2 separate regions of the Homo sapiens genome follow, and region 1 is linked to region 2. The links come from fine-mapping of genetic effects on gene expression. Tissue or cell type: aorta. Region 2 holds a variant in brackets; the other region holds the start of a gene. All regions are shown on one strand. Distances are from middle to middle.

What was found. PIP is the estimated chance that this variant, and not a neighbour inherited with it, causes the effect.
Region 1: GRIA2 starts here. The variant in region 2 is fine-mapped to the expression of GRIA2 in aorta (GTEx, PIP 0.97).

Annotation. Positions count from the first base shown.
Region 1 is chr4:157,217,448-157,225,546 of GRCh38, reverse strand. It overlaps GRIA2 (glutamate ionotropic receptor AMPA type subunit 2), which reads right to left and starts at 4,819. Exons shown (of 16, transcript NM_001083619.3): 1 at 4,417-4,819; 2 at 3,740-3,880. The coding sequence starts at 4,504.
Region 2 is chr4:157,799,376-157,807,485 of GRCh38, reverse strand. LOC105377509 (a long non-coding RNA gene) reads left to right here. Exons shown (of 6, transcript XR_007058347.1): 5 at 2,144-2,235; 6 at 3,785-4,056. Among named protein-coding and RNA genes, the nearest start is that of LINC02433, 230 kb to the right of the region's middle. RefSeq lists a silencer at 2,095-2,389. The variant G/A (reference allele first, on the strand shown) is at 3,790.

The DNA.
Region 1 (8,099 bases), 580 kb after region 2:
TTGGATTCCTAGGACCCATCCCTGGTTTCAACTGTTCTACACATCAGATACTAATCTCAGATTTTTTTCTGCTTTTATGCTTTGTATTTTTAATAATGAAGGCTTACGTTTGAACAACCTTCAGGAAAAAAAATCTTAGTTCTCTTTTCAGCTAAGAAGACAGGGAGGGAGGAAAGGAAAAAATGAGTGAGGGGAGAGAGGAAAAGAAAAAGGGAATGATGGAGAAAAAATGAAAGAAACTGAAAATCTGTCTTACTGCCTCAGGTACCCATGGAAACAAATGGAACAAAATAGGTACTTTCATTATCCCACTGTGATTGTGAAAGGGAAGGATGTGGGAGCTCAGTAAGATGCACACAATCATTTTACCCAGTTCAGAATAGAATGACTTCATTTTCTTTGTATAACCTTAACCCATTCAGTGGATCTCCCTGGATCCTCATATCAACGTCCACTTCAACATTTCCAAATAATTTCCTCCATCTCAGGAATAAAATTAAATTAGTAAACTAATAAATTTTCCCTTTTGAAGTTGTATTACTAAGGTATAAAAATCCACTTTTTAATACGTAAATTTAGCTCTGTGGGATTTTTATGATTGGAAGAGCAAGCTATTTCAAGAGCATTGCAAGATGATACCTATCATCTAATAATGTCATTAGATAGCAAAATTCCTGAGATTTCTAGAGGAAATGGGAAAAAAGATGTTTAGATCTTAGCTGTCAATGTATTTAATGCTGTTGCTTCCACTTTATAAAGGAAAGAATCACAGACTTCCCTGAATAAAAAGGCAAGAAAACAAAGGATAGGCATTGGAGAAAAATCTTAAGCAGGATTTAAACGATCAAGACCCATGCTGACAAATTTAACACTAGAGATTTTCATCCATTTCTTGACTTTGTGATTGTAGTTTACATAAGCATCTTTCCCTTTCCCTCTCTCTCATTCTGTCTCAAAAGAGTTAAACTAATTTTACATCTTCTATTGTCCATAGCACAAAAACAAACAAACAAAAAAGGATACAAATTCTCTATTTCATTTTGCAATCTCTAAATTTTGAAATGTCTCAGAGAATAAAAAAACGGAGTCACAAACATGTTAAGCGATTTGCCCAGTCAATGAGTTAATGTCAGCCCCAGAAATTTCTATCCAATGAGCCTCTCTTCTGTCACAGTACCCCCCTAGTTCTTTTTAGCAAACAGTAAGATTACTTATAACATGGGAGTTGCAAATGTCATGCTTTTGAATTATCATGTTGTCATCTTTAAAATGTGTTCAGTTCCTGAAAATAATTTGTTTTACTATCCTACTATAATAATCCATGCAGGGGTAATTTTAGTCTCTGGAAATGTGAACATATTTATTTTAGCTTCACTTCCTGAGGAGGGGAAAAAACTGTGCAAATGAAGACTTGATTATTCCAGCTTCTCAGAACTATGGACAAATTAAATTGTGTGGTAATTTTTTAAAAGAAGTCCACATGTTGATTACATGAATGTGTTCACCCTGCAAATATATGAATTTACATATGTGTTTAATATATACACATATTCTGGCTATATATTTTATTTCAGAAAAATTTCTATTTAAAAATTCAAAAATATTGAGAATGAGTATCTAAACCTAATAACCTAATCACAGTCTTTTATCTTTATAAAGCCCCAATACAGTAGTTTAGCATTTGTTGAAATCAAGGAATATTCATTTTGTCAATGGACATATGTTATTTTTGCAGAAAGTTCTTCTCATTATTTTCACCAATGAGTGAACTTGGCAATCATTGACTGTTTTCAAAAAGTACAGCTGTCAATACTTTCACTTCACATTCAAAACCTATGTCCTTCCTATACCCACAGCCGTTCCTTAGGAGTCATTACTTTTCAAAGCATTTTCACATAAGTATACAATTACACACAGTTAGATACTCAGAACAGTTGCATGACAAACTTGTAATTCAGGAAAAATTGGAACTTACTGATATCAAATGAATAGTCTAAATCTGTTAGGTAAATAGGTCAAATATAGAAGTCTTCAAATTTTAATTAAGTTGATTTCTTTGTATGTCATGTACTAAAATTTTCTGAGATATTCTATTACGGACGTTTTTCAAAGCTGCAAATCCACTTTAATTCTCCTCTTCTCTCTTTCGTTCTGTACCCCCACACCCGCCCTTCTTTCTTTTCTTACTTGGCACCAACATTTGAAGAAAATATATAGCAGTGAAACCTTCTTAAATAGATCCATTATAAACAATTAAATCCTAAATTACCACACAATGCCCCTATTCTATCAGTCTAAGAAAATTGTTTCTTCATTCGTCCGGGTGACAGTAGTTGCAAGAGTTGATGATGGGCCCAATATGATAATCAAGCTAAATCACGGAATATATGACTAAAGCTTAAAATGGGGAGGAGGGATGGCAACCAGTTGTTTGTGTGACGTGGGAAAACTGCAGTTGGGCTTTTCCTGTGGTAATTTTCCCCAAGCTCTGTAGCCAAAGTGGGAAGTGAGCCATCCGCAGATCTCCCCCAAATTGTTATCTATGAAATAACGACTGCGAATATTAGGGCAGGAAAGAATCACCGCAGGGCAGTCGGCAGGAAATGATGGCAGCTGCTGGGAAGAGGGCAGGAAGGCACAGTGGCCGCGACTGCCTGCCCACGCCTGCGCGGGGGAGCGAGCGCGGGGACCGGAGCCCTCTGGCCTCCACACCAATCCTTTTAGATCCCTAATTGTTTGGTTTCTAGTACTTTATCTGAACCCATCACAGAGCTTCCCAGCGAGTCCCGGAGCACTGCGCGGAGTGAGAGGGTTAATATGGAGCATTGCAAAGACTAAAATGGCTGATCAGCGACTTCTCCAGATTTTCAAACTCGGCCAGATCCCACGGCTTCCCAGTCCTTTTCCCCGGCTGCCTCTGCTGGAGCCCAGCTACCTGAGAACAAAGCGCGCCGGGCTGGCAAGCTGACCGCGGCGCCCCTGGCGGCCTCGCCCCCTCCAACTTAAGCGGAAGCGCAACTGAGCAGGAGAAATTGACAGCGCTCCCCCTTTCCACCGCCTCCCCGCCCCACCCCCACGCCACCCGGCCGGCCTGAGCCTGCGTCAGCCCCGCTCCTCGCCCCTCGGGTGGGCGTTATGTAACAGCCCCGATCCCAACTCCGGAACCATTTCAACAACTTGTCCCAAAGAGGAGAACATGGAGCTCGCGAGGGCCGCAGGGTGAGCCCAGCCGGTGCTGCGGATCTAAACTGGGGGCAGCGGGCGAGAGCGGCAGCTGCTGGGGCAGGAGGCCACTGGGCTCCGGCAGTCCCTCGTGGGATTTGTCCAACAGCCCGACTGCGCGCCCTGGGGAACAACGTGTTCTCTGTGGGCAGGGTGCCAACAGGCGCTCGATGGGGAGCGAGGTGGGAGGGCTTCTCCTGAAGCACTCAAGATGAGCGAAAACCCCTTGAACCCAAGAAAGCCGCCCTCCCTGGCTCCAACCCTCACCCCGGCTCCCTAATGCGCACACTCTTGACGTCCTTTCCCTCTCTCTTCAGCCCTCTCCAGCCAGCGGGGGTCCCTGAGATTACAGCCACCTTCTCTCTACACGGTCACACGCACGCGTGTGTGCAGTCACTCACACCCACACACTGACACACAGAAACGCACACACACCACCCCAGAAACGCACACACACACTCACACTCGCTGGCCTTCCGCGTGCAGCACCCGAAAGGCATGAATATTCATTACTTACAAGCATTAGTGACTGCGAAGCTGTTTGCCACCTCCAAATTGTCGATGTGGGGTGTCAGTCTGAACTCCGAAGTGGAAAACTGAACCATCCCTACTCGAAATGCACTGTATTCTTGATCGGCGCCCCTAGGAAATAGCCCCCCTGCAAAGAACAAACAGCAAGCAAGAGAACAGTGTCAGTGCCCCGGGAGGGAAAGGAGGGGCGCGCGCTAGCGCCCAAAAATCCAAGAGTCTCTTATTCACGCGAATAGGCCGAATAAACACACCTACGGACTCGGACAGCGGGGGTGGAATATCCAAAAGCTAGCCAAGGGGTCAAGACCCAGATGAGAGTCTGAAGGCGAGGTAGGCGGCCAGAAACCTTCACCTTTCCATGTAATCACAAGCTTTGCATTCAGACCCCAAGAAAATCTGAGCAAACTGGAAAATGTCGCTAAGGCAGAATTAATAAAATTTGGGGATCCGAAATGAGAGGACCTTTTCTTCTATTGTATCAAAGGCATAGTCTTTTCCTTTTGCTTCATCCTAAGAAAAACATGTATATTCTAGGTAGTTTAAATCTGGAATGCAGTCAAGGTATGACATAAGTCTACATGACATGAATTAATTTGTACACTGTGAACAAAGATTACCACCAAATTATGCACAATTCAAAAGCATAGCACAAAGGGTACCTACCTATCTGTATGCTGTTAGAAGAGACACCAAAAATCAGTCCCCATAAAACAGGAGAAAGGAGGACAGAAATATGCATAATCTTTTGCATTTCCAAGAAAAGTAGAGCATCCACAATATACCCCTTTTTTTTTCCTTTTCCTCCTCTTCCTTCTTTGGCTGTTTTCCTCTGCAAATTAGATCCTCTGCATTTTGAGACAGCAATTTAGCACCAAGCTGCTAAAACCTGAAGTGGAGGCAGAAGAATCCCTATTTCCCAGGTCCTGCTGGTGGCTGCTGATGCCCTGCGCCCTGTCCCCGCTCCAGAAGTCCGGAGGACTGGCTGAATGCAGTTTTCAGCGGAGCTGCCGCTGTGGTCCCAGTGTCTCGGAATATTCAGCACCCTCCCATGCACTCACACACACTCACCCTCTCTCGCGCTCTCTTCTCCCTCTCTCCTCTCTCACTCACGCGCGCGCGCACACACACACACACACACACATACACACACGCACACACACAGGCAAGTCACAGAGAGGGGCAGGCAGTCCCGGGCGCGCGTGCGCGACTCGCGGCAGGAGGCGGGAGCGCGCGCCCCCTCCCCCGCACGGCGCCCGGCACCCCGCACCACCGTGGACGCGTCGCGTGCGCGGCGCTGAGAAAGCACAGCTCGGGGCCCGTAGCCGCTGTCCCTCCGCGAGACCTCGGGTCTCCGGGGCTGTCGCGCCCACCGCGCGCCTCGGCCTTTCAGCACCGAGGACAGCGCCTCGCTCCCCGCCCGGAGCTACCTTCGTGCGGCTGTTGCAGCTGCTGCGGAGATGCTCCAACCTGGACCAAATGCAGCAAAGCTGATCTCCGGCTGCTGTGTAGAAGCCGAATTGCTAATTGTTGGCGGCGAAGCGTCCTCTCACCAGGCCCTGCTGTCTTACGTTACAAATAATTTTGATTTTTATCTTCCATCTCCTGTGAAAACCCATTTAGCAATACAGAAGCCCTGTCATCCTCCTCACCTGACCCAGCCGAAAGCAAACAAGCAAGCAAAGCACCGTGGAGGAAATATTCCAAAATTGTGCACTTGGGCTTCATGGGATGTAGCCAGGATCCAGGGAGAACCCCAAGTTATATCTTTAAATGCTTAAGCCGCACAAGAGATCAAGATGGAATCTTTTAAATATTTTGCATGAAAATCCCATCTTTAGAGTATATTCCATTGGGCTGTGATGCTGACTCGCCTAGTTACAGAGCGCACGGGTCTTTCTCGCAGCTTTCACTGCAATCCCTCCCTTGTAGAGTCATGTAGACTTGGTTTCCTAGAAGCCCTTGCTTTATGCAGATTGAAAGCAAGAGACTCTGGTTTAAGGAAAGGCTATTAGAGGAAAGTGATTAGAAGATGAAGCTAGTGTAGGAATGCCACAGAGATGCAGATTCTTTCCCAGAGACTTACTTAGAAATCTGTTTCCCCATCGCGTTTTGGCCGGGGGTTTCGAAAAATCACTGCCTAAAGAAAGTAAGCCACCACGCTCTACTGAACACGCGGGCCACAGGGAAAGAAAGATGAGGTTAGATATTAAAAGTTTGAAGGGAGAGAATTGATGGCGAGATGGATGACTGGACTTCCCGTGTGAAATTTATGTTCTTCATGGTGCTTTTTCCAAGCTCATTCCTGGAAACCTGCTCTGACAATTCCCTCTGCGGACTCAGAAAAGCCCCACCAAGTTGCATGTCTTTACTGGTTTAAACAAATAAAGAAAGATTGAGAACAAGGAACTGTTTCCAGGAAGAGGGAGATTGGAGCTTACAGTACTAAAAAGAGAACTGCTAGTATTCCAAAATGCCATGAGTCTATCAGGCTGCCTTCTTGTGCTTGCAGCTTCATTGCTGACTGGATTATCTTATGCTTGCTTCTTAATCACATTGGCCTCAATTTCCCCATTTTAAAAATGATGATGAGCAAAGTGGCTTCTATGGCTCTTGGATCCTATATTGCTGTCATTTCAAATTATAACCTTTCCCTCTTTTTGATGTAGTCCTAAACCATGAAGTGAGAATAGCTGTAATCTATTATTAAGCTTATAAACTATAGACTAAAATATCTCTTAATTTTATGCCTTAGAATTTTATTAGTATGTTATAAGTACTCCACACTGTATATAAAGCAGGTCTTCTAAATAAAAATGTATTTAACCTTTAAAAAATTGAATAATAAAAATAATATATAAAATTAATTAAAATTACAATAAATCGATAAAAAATAAAAAATGAGATATAACTTACATATATTCAAAATTGCAACATAAAGAATAAATAAATCATACATATTTAATCATTATTTGTGATGTAAGGTATACAAAATGATTGGAAATTATTACCTATTTAAAATTTTTAATGTAAAAGCACTAAGAACAGAGCAAAATTTAAAATACCTCTGTAGTTATTTTTTTCTCGATTCACTTGTTTCCACAGGAAAACTTTAATTTCATAGAAAGTAACTTAGAATTAAAGAGAGCGAGGACAGAGAGAGAGGAAGCTTCAATATGAAAAAAATTTGATGTTTAAAATGTGAGTTCAGGTGAATTGAATTTTAAAAAATAAGAATGTTTTCAAACTATTTTCATCTTAACCTATTTCAAAGTCAAGGGCAGATATGAACTCAAAATTGACTGAGTTACATTCTATAAAAAACAAATGCTGTAAAAATAAGAATTTGCTGAATCATAGAGTATAGTAACTAATATGTAAGAGCTCAAGAAAAATATTACTGTCTAGTGGCCAATTACAATTTATATATAAGGTGGAAATAAAAATTTTAGCAAGCATTACTTGTAATTCAACTGCTATTCTATGTATCTATGTTCACAAGGTAGTTATGTATAGACCTTTCACATATTTGGAAACTTATTTCCTATATCAGCATAATTTTATTAATATTATCACTCATGAGACTTTTTCAAATTTCTTATAATGTTTTAATAGCATGTATGTTTCAAGCACAGAATCCTGTCAATATAAGGGTAATAAATTTAAATTGACTACAGTAAATGGTTCTTTATACAAATACATGGAAAAATACTGGAATTTATTTTGTGAATGTACACGGCTCTATTTTTTCATGTAGCAACTTCCTATTTCAAGAATATGTATTTCAAATTGATCACCAATCAATTTTGAAAACTTCAAAACTACTAGATCTACAGTTGACTAGAATAGTGTGCTACAAGAAACAGAGTTTGCTATTTTCTGCCCTCTGCTGTTCAATTTTGGCAATTATGTAAAACTTCATTGCTTCCGCTGCAAGAATTGTAAGTTACAATAAAAAATAAAAGAAATAAAAAATGTGATCCATCGTATCATTTGTTAGTTTAGTTAGGTGGTTGGTTAACAGTTTTTAAATCACTGGCAGAGCAAACTTTTAGCTGACTTTATTATCAAAATTAAGTTATAAATGTCAGTGCTGCAGTTCCTACTGAAGTAGTTTGACCAAAGTGGAGTTCACTCCCTGCCTTCCTGGGACTGTAAAAATGTAGGACATCTAAAAGACTAATATGCAATGCAGAATTTGTAAAAAATGAGTGTCCTCCTACTTTCAGCAGAAGATGGCAAAGGATAGCAGTTCTCGCAGAAGAAACCCATGTTTCAAACGTAAGATTCTATTGGCTGATACAGAGCAAAAGAAACAAAGAAGGAAACATGAGGACTGTAATTACTCA
Region 2 (8,110 bases):
AATGCAGATTAATTATTCATGAATGTGGGAAATAGCTGAGAAAGCCTAGATTCATATATTGAAAAAGCCCAAGTATATCGAATCACGAAGTTCTGCAACATGGAAACTATAAATAGGGGGTGATAGGAACAAGGCAGTCCAGGATCATTTGTAGATGTTTATTCTAGAATGTATGAGCTAGAATAATCACTGCCTCACAATAGCATAAATTAGTTAGGCATTACTTTTTGATGGCTTCTTCATATTTTGAACACAAGGATTCTTATAGTAGAGCCCCAAACAAAAACACTGGTTAACTCAGGTTAAAACAAATCATTAAAATTGCCCATTATGTTGCATAGAGAACTACCAGCAAATATCTGAATACATTTGGAAGCAGATTAAATTATTATATGAGTGTCACTATACCAGCACAATATAGAGATCTCCTATTCTATTAAAAAGAAACAGTTTATAATATATTTTAATGCCACCTACTAATACTTACTTTGAGAAAAATAAATATTATTTTTTCATTATTTACCAAACTGATGCAAAAATGAATTTTTATAAACTTTTATTCTATCTTTTTCTTGCTAACATTCTGACTGAAATAACAAGATGAGTAAGAAATTCTTCATGGGGAAATTAGCCTCTTTAGATTTCCATTATGATATTTCCAAAGGTAATTTTATTTTTCATTTGGGCTATTGATATATTCTTAAAACTTCCAGATAAATTTGGAAATTTAGCAGTATTCATTGGGCAACAATATTTTGTTGATGTTTGTTTTTCAAATTATCTAAACCAAAAAGCTTATTTAAGTTCTACTATCCCAGGTTTCTATGTAGAACTAGAAATTGTTAGTCCAAATTTTATTTAAAAATGATTTATAAAGGATGATTCGACTCTATCTTTGAAAACAAATAATTTCCAGTTTGAATAATGATATGTTAATTAAATTAAAATTGATTAAGTCAGGCGGCATTACATATTTGCTAGTGCTTCAATTTTAGTCAGGAGAGGAATGGATATGCTTTAATATTCAAATGCCACTGTCATGTTTAAATTCATTGCTGTGCTGTGGAAAGAGAAACAACAGAAGCAGCTGTGTGCTCCCACCGCATTGAGCAGAGAATTCAATAACTCTCAGAGTAGGCAGGATTAGCTACTCACTGTCAAACACAGTTGCCCAATTCTGTGCAGCAGATTTTTTTAATATTCCATTTTGGAATACTAAAAGGTTGAAATATGTAAAATATGCAAACATTTCCATTTGCAAGTCACAATGAGAACACAGATGCACAGGTTCTATTTAGCATTATAGCTTTACTGGTTGAACTCAACTAATTTACTAGAGGTATTATCTTTATTAATAACTGAATAATAATTTATTAACAAAAACAAGTTTCCGAACATAGTACTTATTTTTAATCAGTGAGAAAACTTTGCTAAGCTTTTCACCTTTACTAATTGGATACTCTGACTTTTCTTGAAGATTATACCAACAGACTCCATTAGCCTTCTAGACAATGAGTAAAAACAGACTATGCAGTTAAGCCTTCAGGAGTGCTAGCCCAGGAGCATGCTGAAAAATACTACATTAGAAATAACCTGACAGTGATAACTTCAGGGCAATTGGGGAACTATTTTCAGCTTAGATCCAAACTGAAAATTAGCTTTCTCGCCAAAAAGCTACATTTTAGAAAACTCCCACCTGCATATAATATGGGTGAGAAAACACAGAGGCAGCAGAGAGAAGGAGCCATGTGAACAACAACAAAAAAGGTGGTTATATTGGGCTACTGACAATGTCCAGCACAGATACCATTTGTCCGATACAAATATCATTTGAGAAGCACGTACAGTATAATTTTATTCCTAGTACTTATCTTCCTTTCCTTTACCCATTATTTAAAAGGAACACAAAACAATGTTAAAATTACTATAAGTACCTAATATCAGATCTTTCCAGTAAAACTATGTGAAATATATATTGTGAGGCCTTCATGAGTACAGCTTGGTGGGTCCGATTACCTTTGTACTTTTTAGAACTTTTTGCCTAGGCTTAGCCTGAGTGAGGGTAAGGGGATGAAAGAGTGAATGTGCAATTTTCATTCTTCTGTCAGGGTTTCTCTGTAGTCACTATCCTCTTCCTGCATAGGTATTAAGGCTGAATTTGTCTACACATCAAACATGTACCTAGGAGGAATATTTGCTCTGTGCCATCAGCAGTGTAGAAACTAGAATAACCAGGTGAGTGTCTGCAATGTCTGTTCACTTCACAGAAACTCAGAACAAGCAGGCCTGTGTTCTTCTTGCAGCCTCAAGAGGGAGCAGAGGAAAGAGGGCTATGAGTGTTCTCTTAGACACAACAGCAAGTAACAAATAAATGCAAAGGGAAATTTTGCTTAATTAGCTTCAAATGTCTCAAACATTATAGATAACCATGTGATAAATGTATAACAGTAAAAAGATAATATTGGGAAGTTTAGCAGAGTACAGCATCAGCTATTATTAATCTGATGAACTTTTCATTTGTAACCTTTGAAAATACTACTACCATAAAGTGACACATGGGGACAAACCCCTGCAGAAGACATCGTTAGGATTTTAAAGTGTACAAAGATAGACAACAGTAATAATTTGGAGCCCTAAACTTTTTTGTTAATAAGAATTTTAAATAAATTATAGTGGGATGGACACATATTCTGTTTTAAAATAGAATGCATACTCCTAAAAGTTTTTTTGTAAATAAAAAGTATATTTTAACACTACCTAGTTATATTAAGAAATGCTATAAAAATCACTTTGGGAGGGTAATTATACTTCATTAATTTAGTTTCATTTCCACTTCTAAGCCTTATTTTATTACTTGTTTAAGCCTTATTTTATTATTTGTTTATATAGGGCTATCATTTGTATTTAAGAAAAGGTATTCCAATATACTATATAGAGCAGCTGAAGAAGAATAAAGCTGGCTCAGAATCCCTGGATGAGTTTCTGCTGTGGTCGTGTTTCAGTAATTGGGACTAGACTTGCCATCTGCCCATAAATATCTAGAAAACTAAGCATAATAGATAACACATCTGTGTCCAAAAGTGGGACAACAGTCAGTGTGAACTATGACCTGTGAGATAAGGGAAACAAATGAGGAGAGGCCTACAATTGCCCTTGCTCTCTGCCTGGAGGCACTCTCTAGAACACAGTGTGGGATGGGAATACAAAACAGAACATAAGGGTCTCACTAATGAAAAACAGAGCAGAGCAGGGGGAGGCAGATCTGGCTACAGTTTAGAGGATTTAATGTCAGAGAGAAGGGAGCTCTGCAGAGCTCCAGAAATCCATATAAGGATCTCCTTGAGGCTGTTGCTAAATATTAAGCAAAATTTATGTGGGGATTAACTCCATGAGGTCAGGCAAAAAAATAATGTAGGAGTTGTGTACCAAACAATTCCCAGAGCTCACTGGGTAATGTTGAAGTCTGACCACTCAGACTGCCAAGTCTTCATCTGAACATCAAGGGTATCCTGTAGATACCTAATGACAGTTACTCCTTAGTAACTGTTGTTAAGTGTTGTAAGCAGTTTCTGAGATGCTTCCAATGATTCAGACCTCTTAATATTCATGAACTTTTGTAATATTTTCCCATCAAGTGCTAGTGGGACATAGAACTTGTTTGTAGAGAATAGAATACAGCAAATGTGATGAGATGTTACTTTTGAGATTATATTAGAAAACAAAACAATGCTGGTTTACATTTTACTTGCCTTCTCTCTTGCTGACTTGTTCTGATGGAATCTAGCTGCC[G/A]TATTGTGAGCTGCATTATGAAGAGAACCATGTGGCAAGACACTGAGGGAGATCTCCAGCCAACAACAACTCATAAGCAACTAAATCTTGTGATGAACCACTGGAGTCATCTGGAAAGAGGATCCTCTCACCTTCAATCTTTGAAATGGCTAGAGCTCTGATGACAGTTGGATTACAGCCTTAGGAGAAACAGAGAGCCGGGGAAATTTGTGCCCAGGTTCCTTTCCCACAGACATTGTCAGATAATAAATATCTCTGCGTTTTTAAGCTTCTATGTTCTGGGATAATTTGTTATGCTGCAATAAATAACAACCTGGAAGTGAGGTGCTGCCATAGTAAATATCTAAATATGGATCATTAACTCATGTCTAAACTAGCCTTAGAATAATAGCTACTCTAGACTTGTTAGCAGAACTTAAAACAAGCCTTAAGAGAACCAAGCTGATCCAGAAATAACATACATTAGCGGATTAAAATCCAACTTTCCTTAAAGAGTGATAGAAAAAGTAAAATACACAATATCTAACATTCAATCAAGAATTACTATTGAGAACATGGAAAAACATGACCCATAAACGGGAGAAAATTTAGTGAATAGAAACAGATCCCAAGATGATAACAATAATAGAATTAATAAACAGGACTTTGTAAACAACTATGATAAATATGCTTGACTGTTTAAAGAAAAACATGAAAATAATAATGATGAGAGGAATTAAAGATATATAAAAGGACCAAATAGAACATCTAGATTTTTATTTAACTTAGGCACTATATGAAGTTAAAGATACACTAGGCAAGACACTGTAGAAGATAAGATAGATAAACTTGAAGACATGGATCTCAAATTTTTCTAAACTGACTTTCTTATGGGGACAGAAAAGACCAAGAAAATATGAACAGTGTCTCCTTAACTTTTTATACTGCCTCAGTGTCTCAATTACTTGTAATGATATGAAACAGTCCAATGTATGTATCACTGGAGTCCTGGAAAGAAAATGAGGGACCAGAAAAAGGTTAAAGAAATTCTAGCCTAAATTATTCCAAAATTGGTAAATACAACATATACTCACTTTGTAGAAGCTCAATGAATTTCAGTTGAGCTAAACAGCAAACAGACAAAAAAACAACCCCACCAATTCTCAAAAGCAAAAACAGAAAAAGCTATAAGCACATCATAATCAAATTATTAAATACTAGCAATGAATGAAAATCTCTTACACAAGTCAGAATATAAAATGCAAATTATTTAGAGAAGGAAAAAGATAACCTATGACAGAAAATAATTAAATAACATCTTCAGAAAACCATGGAACACTGCTAAGAGAAATCACACATGACACAAAAGAAAACACATACCATGCTTATGGATGGGAAGAATCAATATTGTGAAAATAACCATACTGGCCAAAGCAATCTGCAGATTCAATGCAATTCCCATCAAAATACTACCATCATTCTTCACAAAACTAGAAAAAACAATCTTAAAATTCATATGGGACCAGAAAAAGAGTACATATAGCCAAAGAAATACTAACCAAAAAGAACAAACCTTGAAGCATCACATTACTGAACTTTAAATTATATTACCAGGCTATAGGTACCCAAACAGCATGGTACTAGTATAAAAGTAGGCACATAGACCAATGGAACAGAGTAGAGAACCCAGAAATAAAGCCAAATACTTACAGCCAACTGATCTTCAACAAAGCATACAAAAATATAAGTGGGAAAGGACACACTATTCAACAAATGGTGCAGGGATAGTTGGCAAGCCACATGTGGGAGAATGAAACTCTATCCTCATCTCTCATCTTATGAAAAAATAAACTCAAGATGCATCAAAGACTTAAATCTGAGACCTGAAACCATAAACATCCTAGAAGATAACATTGGAAAAACTCTTCTGGACATTGGCTTAGGGAAAGACTTCATGACTAAGACCCCAAAAGCAAATGCAAGAAAAACAAAAATAAGTAGTATCTAATTAAACTAAAAAGCTTCTGCACAGCAGATAGTCAGCAGAGTAAACAGACAACCACAGAGTGGGAGAAAATATTCACAAGCTGTGCATCTGACATCTGACAAAGGACTAGTATCTAGCATCTACAAGGGACTCAAACAAATCAGCAAGAAAAAACAAAAACAATCCTATCAAAAAGTGGGCAAAGGGCACGAATAGACGTTTCTCAAAAGAAAATATACAAACAGCCAACAAACATATGAAAAAATGCTCAACCTCACTAATTATCAGGGAAATGCAAATTAAACCATAATGAGATACCACCTTACTCCTGCAAGAATGGCCATAACTAAAGAGTCAATAAACAATAGATATTGGTATGGATGTGGTAAATAGGGAACATTTTCACACTGCTGGTAGGAATGTAAATTAGTACAATCACTATGGAAAGCAGTATGGAGATTCCTCAAGGGACTAAAAGTAAATCTACCATTTCATCCAGCAATTCCATTACTGGGTATCAACACAAAGGAAAAGAAGTCATTATATGTAAAAGACACATGCACATGCATGTTTATAGCAACACAATTTGCAATTGCAAAGGTACGGAACTAACCTAAGTGCCCATTGACCAATGGGTGGATAAAAAAATGTGGTATATTTATACCATAGAATACTATTCGGCCATAAAAAGGAACAAAATAATGTATTTGGCAGAAACTTGGATGGAACTGGAAGCCATTATTCTAAGTGAAGTAACTCAGGAATGGAAATCCAAATACTGTATGTTCTCCTTACAATCGGTAGCTACCTTATGAGGATGCAAAAACATACAGAGCAATATAATGGACGTTGGGGACTCAGTGGGAGAATTGGGGAGAGTGAGGGATAAAAGACGACATATTGGATACAGCATACACTGCGTGTTTGATGGGTGCACTAAAATCACAGAATTTACCCTAAAGAACTCATCCATGTAACCAAAAACTACCTGTAGCCCTAAAACTAAAGAATTTTTTTAAAAAATAACATCTTCAAACTGTTAAAAGAAAAAAAATATCGATCTAGAGTTCCATACTCTGCAAAAATGTACTTCAAAAATAAAGACCAAAAGAAGATTTTTAAAACAAACAAATGCAGAAGTTGTCACTAGCAGACTTTTACTTCAGACAACAATAAATAGAACTCTTCAGGTGTAAGGACAATGATTCCAGATGGAAACTTGGATTTACTGAAAGTAATAGTGTTGTGATTGGTGAATATGTTACTAAAAATAACATTGAGTCATTTTTTTATTTTTAATCTTTATAAAAAATGACTCTTTAAAACAAAAATAATAGAGTGTATTGTGAAGTTTGTAACATGTATAACATGTATAAAAACAAAAGCACAAATAGGAGATGTAATTATATGTAACTTTTAATATATTACATGTGAAGTTGTATAACATTATTTGAAGTCAATGTGACAAGTTAAAGATGGACAAATCCTAAAACCCTAGAACAACAGCTAAAAATGAAACAAAGTGATTGTTATAGTGAATCAGAGAAAATAAAATGGAATATAAAAAGCTATCAAGATGTCAAAAAGAGAGGGAAAGAGGAAAAATAGCAGAGGTATAAATACACAACAAATAACAAAGTAATAGCTTTAATCTCAATGATATCTGTAAATTAGATGAAGGAAAATGGAATAAAGGCTGCAATTAAAAGGAAGAGATTTCCATGCTGGATAAAATTGCAAGACCCAATTATATGCTGGCCACAAGATACATGTTTCAAATATCAAGGCACATATAGGTTAGTTAAAAAATATAAAATTCATATATATTTTCAGCATGTATCTATGTATCCCTAATTGTGTATGCCCCTAATAATAGAACTTCAAAATGCATGAAGCAAAAGGTGACTGTACTGAAAACACCATTAAAAATACACAGTTATTTGTGGAGATTCAACAATTCTCTCTCAGTAATTGGCAGAACAAGTCAATGTTAAAAATCAATAAAAGTAAAGAAGGTTTGATCGATGTAAGTTAATTGATATTTGTGGAATTTTCTATTCAGCAACAGAAGAATATACATTCTTCTCAATTGCAGACGGTCCACCCACCAAGATGGACCCTGTACTGTTCTGTAAAACATGTTTTAAGAAAGTTAAAAGACTGAAACTGTACAAATTATGTTCTGCACATAATAGAAATTATATTCTATATGTGATAAAATTTAATTTTAAATTAACAGCAGAAAGGTATCTAGAAAATTCCCAAATACTCTAACATTAATCAGTATACTTCTAAATAATCACAAGTCAAGGGAGATTCACAAAGATAGTATGAAGTATTTTGAATTGAATAAAA